2 linked regions of the Homo sapiens genome follow. Changing the gene in region 1 together with any one later gene gives a genetic interaction. Each region holds a gene or a part of one and is shown on either strand. Other genes may lie near its edges.

Region 1 (3,655 bases):
AAACATATACTCTCAAGTTTTTACACAATTACTCATTGTTTAACATTTTTTCAACCGGCTTCTACAGTTCTTTTGAGCAGATTCTGTTTCTGCTCTTTGTACAATGAAAATCTCTTCAGTTCTTTCCTCCTTTGGGTGCCATGCACTAAATATTCACCTCTTTTAATAAGTAGTTGCTAAAGCTCATCTAATTATTCCGTTAAGTGGTATATATTCTGCAATGTCCTTTGAATACAGAAAACAACCCAGATACCATCTTTCCTAGATTTTCACTTATGCCAAGTATACTAAAGATCCCCTTCTCCAAGGCAGAAGAATGCTTAAAAAGTTACAAGTTAACATCAACAGGGTAAGTAGGGAAGTTTCCACAGAATCACAACACAGTTGATTTGTAGGCAACGATTGGGCACATCTCATATCAGAATCCCGCTCTTCTTGATGACCTCTGGTGAATGTCAACATTCTGGTCATATAATCAACTATCAGCTCATATTCCTACTCTGAAGTTCTAAACTTCATCAGCCAAAAAAAGAGGGACCAAGAAAATTTAAGTTCTTGAGATGTGCAGGTCTTCCAATGACCTACACACTCTAGATACAGCCTATTACAGTGCAGGATAAACAGACACGGTCCTCTGGAAGGGCTATTTTCACTATGGTAGAAGCTGCTTTGTAAAACAAAACAAAACTTGCCTGCTTAGTATAACTCACTATAATTCTCCTTATTTATTTGAGACAGGGTCTTGCTTTGTTGCCCAGGCTGGAGTGCAGGGGCATGATCACTGCAGCCTCGACCTCCCAGGCTCAAGTGATCCTCCTACCTGAACCTCCTGAATAGCTGGGACCACAGGTGCACACCACCAAGCTTGGCTACATGTCCTCTAATGAAGCTAATCTTTAAGTATTACCCTGTTTGTTATCCCTTAAAGTACAAGAACCTTTATCAGTGAGGAACAAACAGACTGCCTGGCACTAAGCATTCTAAATTTTGGTGACAGCTAGAAGCTCCACCTACCAAGCATCTACAGAAAACAACATGCCTGCAGTGGTGAGAAGGAAGCCACTAGTTTAAAGATAAGCAAAACTTGAAGGCAGATAATCCTGTTGGGAGAAAGGAATGGAAGGACAGTACCAGATGGCTCCTTCTTGAAGCAACTCAAATGAAGACCCAGGTCATTTGCAAACAATCCTGCTCCTTGCTTCACTTTTGCACTATGATGCTTCACATAATACTGAAGGCCTGTGATGGTAAAACTCACCAATAATGCACCATTTTGAAAGGTAGGTCCCTAACATGAGGAAATGTTAGGTTAAGACACTACTGTTAGGCCAGGCGTGGTGCCTTACGCCTGTAATCTTAGCACTTTGGGAGGCCGAGGTGGGAGGATCACGAGGTCAGGAGATCAAGACCATCCTGGCTAACACGGTGAAACCCTGTCTCTACAAAAAATACAAAAAAATTAGCCGGGCATGGTGGCGGGTGCCTGTAGTCCCAGCTACTTGGGAGGTTGAAGCAGAAGAATGGCATGAACCCGGAAGACGGAGCTTGCGGTGAGCCGAGATCGGGTCACTGTGCTCCAGCCTGGGCAACAGAGCGAGACTCCATCTCAAAAAAAAAAAAAAAAAAAAAAAAAAGACACTACTGTTACTATCAGTTACAGTAAATCAGAATGTTTTAGGCCAGGTGCAATGACTCACACCTGTAATTCCAACACTTTGGGAGGCCAAGGAGAAGTGATCAGTTAAATCTAGGAGTTTGAGACCAAACTGGGCAATACAGTAATATCCCATCTCTTAAGAAAAAAGTTAGCCAGGTCAGGCATGGTGGCTCACACCTGTAATCCCAGCACTTCAGTAGGCTGAGGTGGGCAGACCACAAGGTCAGGAGTTCAAGACCAACCTGGCTAATTTGGTGAAACTCCGTCTCTACTAAAAATACAAAACTTAGCCGGGCATGGTGGCAGGTGCCTATAGTCCTAGTTACTTGGGAGGCTGAGGCAGGAGAATCACTTGAACCTGGGAGGCAGAGGTGGCAGTGAGCTGAGATTGCACCACTGCACTCCAGCCTGGTGACAGAGCAACACTCCGTCTCAAACAAAACAAAACAAAACAAAAACAAAGAATGGTCTGGAAGACAGGATGCAGATAGATGATAAGTTTAAGTTTAGTGTGTTTGAAACCTGCTTACAGTCCAGAGTTAAGAGCAGAATAAGCTGGGGCCGGGCGCAGTAGCTCACACCTGTAATCCCAGCACTTTGGGAGGCCGAGGTGGGAGGATCACAAGGTCAGGAGATCGAGACCATCCTAGCTAACATGGTGAAACCCCGTCTCTACTAAAAATACAGAAAATCAGCCGGGCGTGGTGGCAGACACCTGTAGTCCCAGCTACTTGGGAGGCTGAGGCAGGAGAATGGCATGAACCCGGGAGGCAGAGCTTGCAGTGAGCCGAGATAACGCCACTGCACTCCAGCCTGGGCGACAGAGAGAGACTCCATCTCAAAAAAAAAAAAAAAAAAAAGAGCAGAATAAGCTAAAGAGAGAAATGTGAGCCACAAGATCTGAGATCTGAGCAGTCAGAAGTAAAGGACAATAATCATACGCAATTGGCAACCAGTGTTCAAAATGATAACATGAAATTCATGGATTGGAAAGAAATGATTAAATTATGAAATTAAGATGTTACTGTTACATGGTTCTGAAAAAGAACTACAATTAAAACTGTATTTCATTTGTTCTTAATTCTGGGTAACACTAGAAATAACTGGCCAGGTGCAGTGGCTCACGCCTGTAATCCCAGCACTTTGGGAGGCGAGTAGATCACCTGAGGTCAGGAGTTCGAGGCCAGCCTAGCCAACATGGTAAAATCCATCTCTACTACAAATACGAAAATTAGCCAGGCATGGTGGCAGGTGCTTGTAATCCCATCTACTCCAGAGGGTGGGGCAGGAGAATTGCTTGAACTTGGGAGGCAAAGGTGGCAGTGAGCTGAGATCACAGGACTACACTCCAGCCTGGGTGACAGAAAATATAACAATAATAAATAAAATTTAAAGACATCACTGGGCCAGGCATAGTGGTTCACGTCTGTAATCCTAGCACTTTGGGAGGCCAAGGCGGGCGGATTACCTGAGGTCAGGAGTTCAAAACCAGCCTGACCAACATGGTGAAACCCCACCTCTACTAAAAATACAAAAATTAGCCGGAGTGGTGGTGTGCGCCTGTAATCCCAACTACTCAGGAGGCTGAGGCAGGAGAATTGCTTGAACCCAGGAGATGGAGGTTGCAGTGGACCGAGATCGCACCACTGCACTCCAGCCTGGGTGACAGAGTGAGACTCCATCTCATTAAAAAAAAAAAACAAACAAACAACAAAAAAAGAAATAACTGATGACAGGTTTCCACAATCATAACACTGAGAGAAAAAGACTATGCCTACAAAAGTTCAAAAGAAATTTAAAAAACAATGCAAAACTTTAGAGGTGAGCTATCAAACACACATAACACATATGTATTTCACAGAACTACATTAACATATAAAATGTTTGCAGAGATAATCAGAATTCCAAATTATTTCCTTGAATAATAACTGTCGAAGTAAACAGGCTTCCAGTTCAAACAATACAAAATTGCAGGAATTAACTTTTACATTGCTTTAC
Region 2 (3,655 bases), on another chromosome or scaffold:
TTAGGAACAAAGAAATCATACCTTGTGATCTGCCACACCTAAGAAGGCAATGGCTGTGTAAAGCATATGAGTTAGAGCACTGTCATGATGTCCTTCAGCTAAGTGAGTTGAAGTAAAGGAAAAAAATTCCAAAAAGTCACTCTTTGACACCTGAAGTTCTCCTGAAATTTTAGTTACATTATTTTGGATTGCATATAGACTGATCTGGAGGCCTCAAACTTAATTACTTTCAATAACATGTTTCACTTAAAAACAAAACAAAATAAAACAATCTAACATTTAATTCCAGGACCTCATTTATAAACTGGAATGCCTGTATTTCTTTTGTTGTCTCCAAAACAATTATAATAGTGCTTAAGATAAACTTGCCAGATTTTAGTAGTTAACCTCTAAAAGACACATTGCATACATACTTTAAGAACGACAAAGGTACAAGAGCAAGGAATCTCCCTGGACCACTCCTGTCCAGTGGAATTAAGGTTGCCCTTTAAGACTGACATGTAAAATGAGTCCTAAATCTGTCTTCTAAGTCACTGACCACATAAGTCTTAGCAAATTAAGTGGCAAGCAAAAGAGGGTGGGGAATAGAGGTTGTATCACAAGCAACCTGGAGCTTTTCCAAAGTCACACTCTTCTCCCTCACTGTAACAAAGAAAATTATTATTAGTTTACTAATAAGTTTTAGGGCAGTGAGTATCAGTAATAGAAGAATAAAAACTGGTGCTTGGAGTTCTGCTGGATGGAGTGGGTAAGGATGTATGAATAGAAAATAGAAAAAAAGGCATGTTTGTAGAGTAAAATGAGTAGATATATTTGACTAGAAAGTTGGGTTTCTGTAAGAGAAGAGTTGGGGCTGAGCTAGAGATAATAATTTAGAGCAAGACAATGAATACTAGGTAAGGGAATTTGAACTTTTTCTTTCAGGCAAGAAGATACTAAAGGTTTTTCATTTATCAGCCTTTTAATTGTTAAATTATAAGGGAGCAAACATGTTGAGTGGCAAATCACCTTTTTTTTTTCCAGCACCAGGACATTCCAAAATATTCTTTCAATGTCCCTACATTTCTGAAAATTTAGGGTACTGTAGGTGATACAGAGATGCTATAAAATATTTAACTTATAATGAGTTTGTTCATTATTTGAATACTGATTTAGAATATCTACATTAATCTATGAAAGTTTCATTCATCATTGATCAGTTTAATTCACTTATCCTTTCTTTTTCCATTGTTCCAGGCTTCTAGTTTTCCTCAAGACTTGAAACAACTCTGATCTATTCCAAAAGGATACGGTGTTCAGCCATTTTAGCCATGAGATCATCATTGTCAAAAAGCAATAAACAGATCACAGCAATAATGAAAAAAGCAGCTCCCCTTGTCTGAAAATAAAGAAAACAACATCAAGGATGACTTTTTCAAGGGTTGATTTTTAAGACCGTAACTACATAAATACTAAAGAAAAACATTTTCTCAAGTAAGCATTTACAAAAATGCATTAAAAAACAGAAAAAAATCTGACATTAAAGCTCTTACATATTATAAGCTTACAGTATTGGCAGTAAGATATCAAAGAGATATAAACTAATGATAACATTGATTATCTCTTTGCTAACATGGCTGGGCATATTACTATGTACAAATTGGTACTGTTTACAGAATCAGCCTTCCTAAATGCTACTTTACTTCTGGTTGAAAAGCCCACGTAGCTAAAGAATAACTAGTAGGAACTTATTTTACTCTACAATATGCAAGGAATAGAGAATATTCTAGATACTACTCCTCTAGAGAAAAATAATCCAGAGGGCACGGTAAAACCAGCAAAGTCATTTCTAAGATCTAGTAAAGTACAAAGTACTTAAAAAGCTGATAAAATTTATGTTCTCATTCCAGGGAAAATTTTTTTTTTTTTTTCAGACAGATCTCGCTGTCGCCCAGGCTGGAGTACAGTGGCGTGAACACAGCTCACTGCAGCCTCCAATTCCTGGGCTCAAGTGATCCTCTTGCCTCAGCCTACCAAATAGCTGGGACCACAGGCATGTGCCACCATGCCTGGTTAATTTTTTATTTGTAGAGACCAGGTCTAGCCATGTTGTTCAGGCTGAGGAAAAAGGTTTTCATAAAAGAAAATTATAGAAAGGACATATTAGCTCGGTTTATGTAAATATTTCAGAATGGTAGCTTCAAGAGCAATCTAAATAGCATTACTATACATTCCTTTTTTTTTTTTGAGGAGAGTCTCTGTTGCCCAGGCTGGAGTGCAATGGCACGATCTCGGCTCACTGCAACCTCCATCTCCCGGGTTCAAGTGATTCTCCTGCCTCAGCCTCCTGAGTAGCTGGGATTACAGGTGCACATCACCATGCTTGGCTAATTTTTGCATTTTTAGTACAGACGGGTTTCACCATGTTGGTCAGGGTGGTCTTGATCTCTTGACCTCGTGATCCACCCGCCTCGGTCTCCCAAAGTCCTAGGATTACAGGCATGAGCCACTGTGCCTGGCTAAACAGCATTACTATACATTCTATATTTACAAATTTACAGGTATAACATGTCTTGTATGATACATATACTTGTAGAATACCTATTATATATAGATACATTAAGTGTATTATATATACCTATAATGGAAGTATAATACAATACTTCTATTAAAGTTTACAATGCAAAGTGAGGATACTCTTCATTCTATGATTACCACTATAATGGATAAATTCTGTTAGTGTGGTATTACAACAAAATTCAGTACACTACACATGAGAAAAACCATGTACTTTTAAATTTCTTAAGTTTTCACTGAGTTAGGATATGGCAACATCAACAACAATCAAATACAGAGAACATAACTTAATCTTTTTGTTAACAAAGAAGGCAACTGAGAATTTTGTAATGCTTCAGTCTCATAATTAAGAAAAAAAGGCCAGGCGTGGTGGCTCACGCCTGTAATCCCAGCACTTTGGGAGGCCGAGGCGGGTGGATCATGAGGTCAGGAGTTCAAGACCAGCCTGACCAATATGGTGAAACCCTGTCTCTACTAAAAGTACAAAAATTAGGCCAGGCGCAGTGGCAGGTGCCTGTAATTCCAGCTACTCAGGAGGCTGAGGCAGGAGAATTGCTTGAACCTGGGCAGCAGAGGTTGCAGTGAGCTGAGATTGTGCCACTGCACACCAGCCTGGGTGACAGAGTGAAACTCTGTCTCAAAAAAAAAAAAAAAGAAAAAGAAAAAAAAAGTCCGGGCGTGGTGGTTCACACCTGTAATCTCAGCACTTTGGGAGGCCAAGGCGGACAGATCACAAGGTCAGGAGTTCAACACCAGCCTGGCCAACATAGTGAAACCTTGTCTCTACTAAAAATACAAAAATTAGCCAAGTGTAGTGGCATGTGCCTGTAATCTCAGCTACTCGGGAGGCTGAAGCAGGAGAATTGCTTGAACCTGGGAGGTGGAGGTTGCAGTGAGCCAAGATGGTGCCACTGCACTCCAGCCTGGGCAACCCAGTGAGACTCCATCTCAAAAAAAAAAAAAAGAAAAAACAATCATCAAGTCCTGGACTGATGCCCTGATCCATTTCTCACACTAATGAGAACACTCTCACTTCTAGTTACTTAAGGAGGAAAACTTTTTTTTTAAATGTTTTCAAGTCATTTTTATTTCTTTTGTG

The links. Genes that interact genetically often act in the same process or in processes that back each other up.
Region 2: changes in ARL5B (region 1) and SLC30A5 together harm fitness less than expected from each alone (positive genetic interaction), as found in Homo sapiens cells (one large-scale study listed by BioGRID).

Annotation. Positions count from the first base shown.
Region 1 is NC_000010.11:18,662,409-18,666,063, reverse strand, and holds part of ARL5B (ADP-ribosylation factor-like protein 5B), read right to left. Parts: intron 1-3,655.
Region 2 is NC_000005.10:69,110,863-69,114,517, reverse strand, and holds part of SLC30A5 (proton-coupled zinc antiporter SLC30A5), read right to left. Parts: intron 1,379-3,655; coding exon 1,291-1,378; intron 99-1,290; coding exon 22-98; intron 1-21. UniProt on the Homo sapiens protein: Together with SLC30A6 forms a functional proton-coupled zinc ion antiporter mediating zinc entry into the lumen of organelles along the secretory pathway.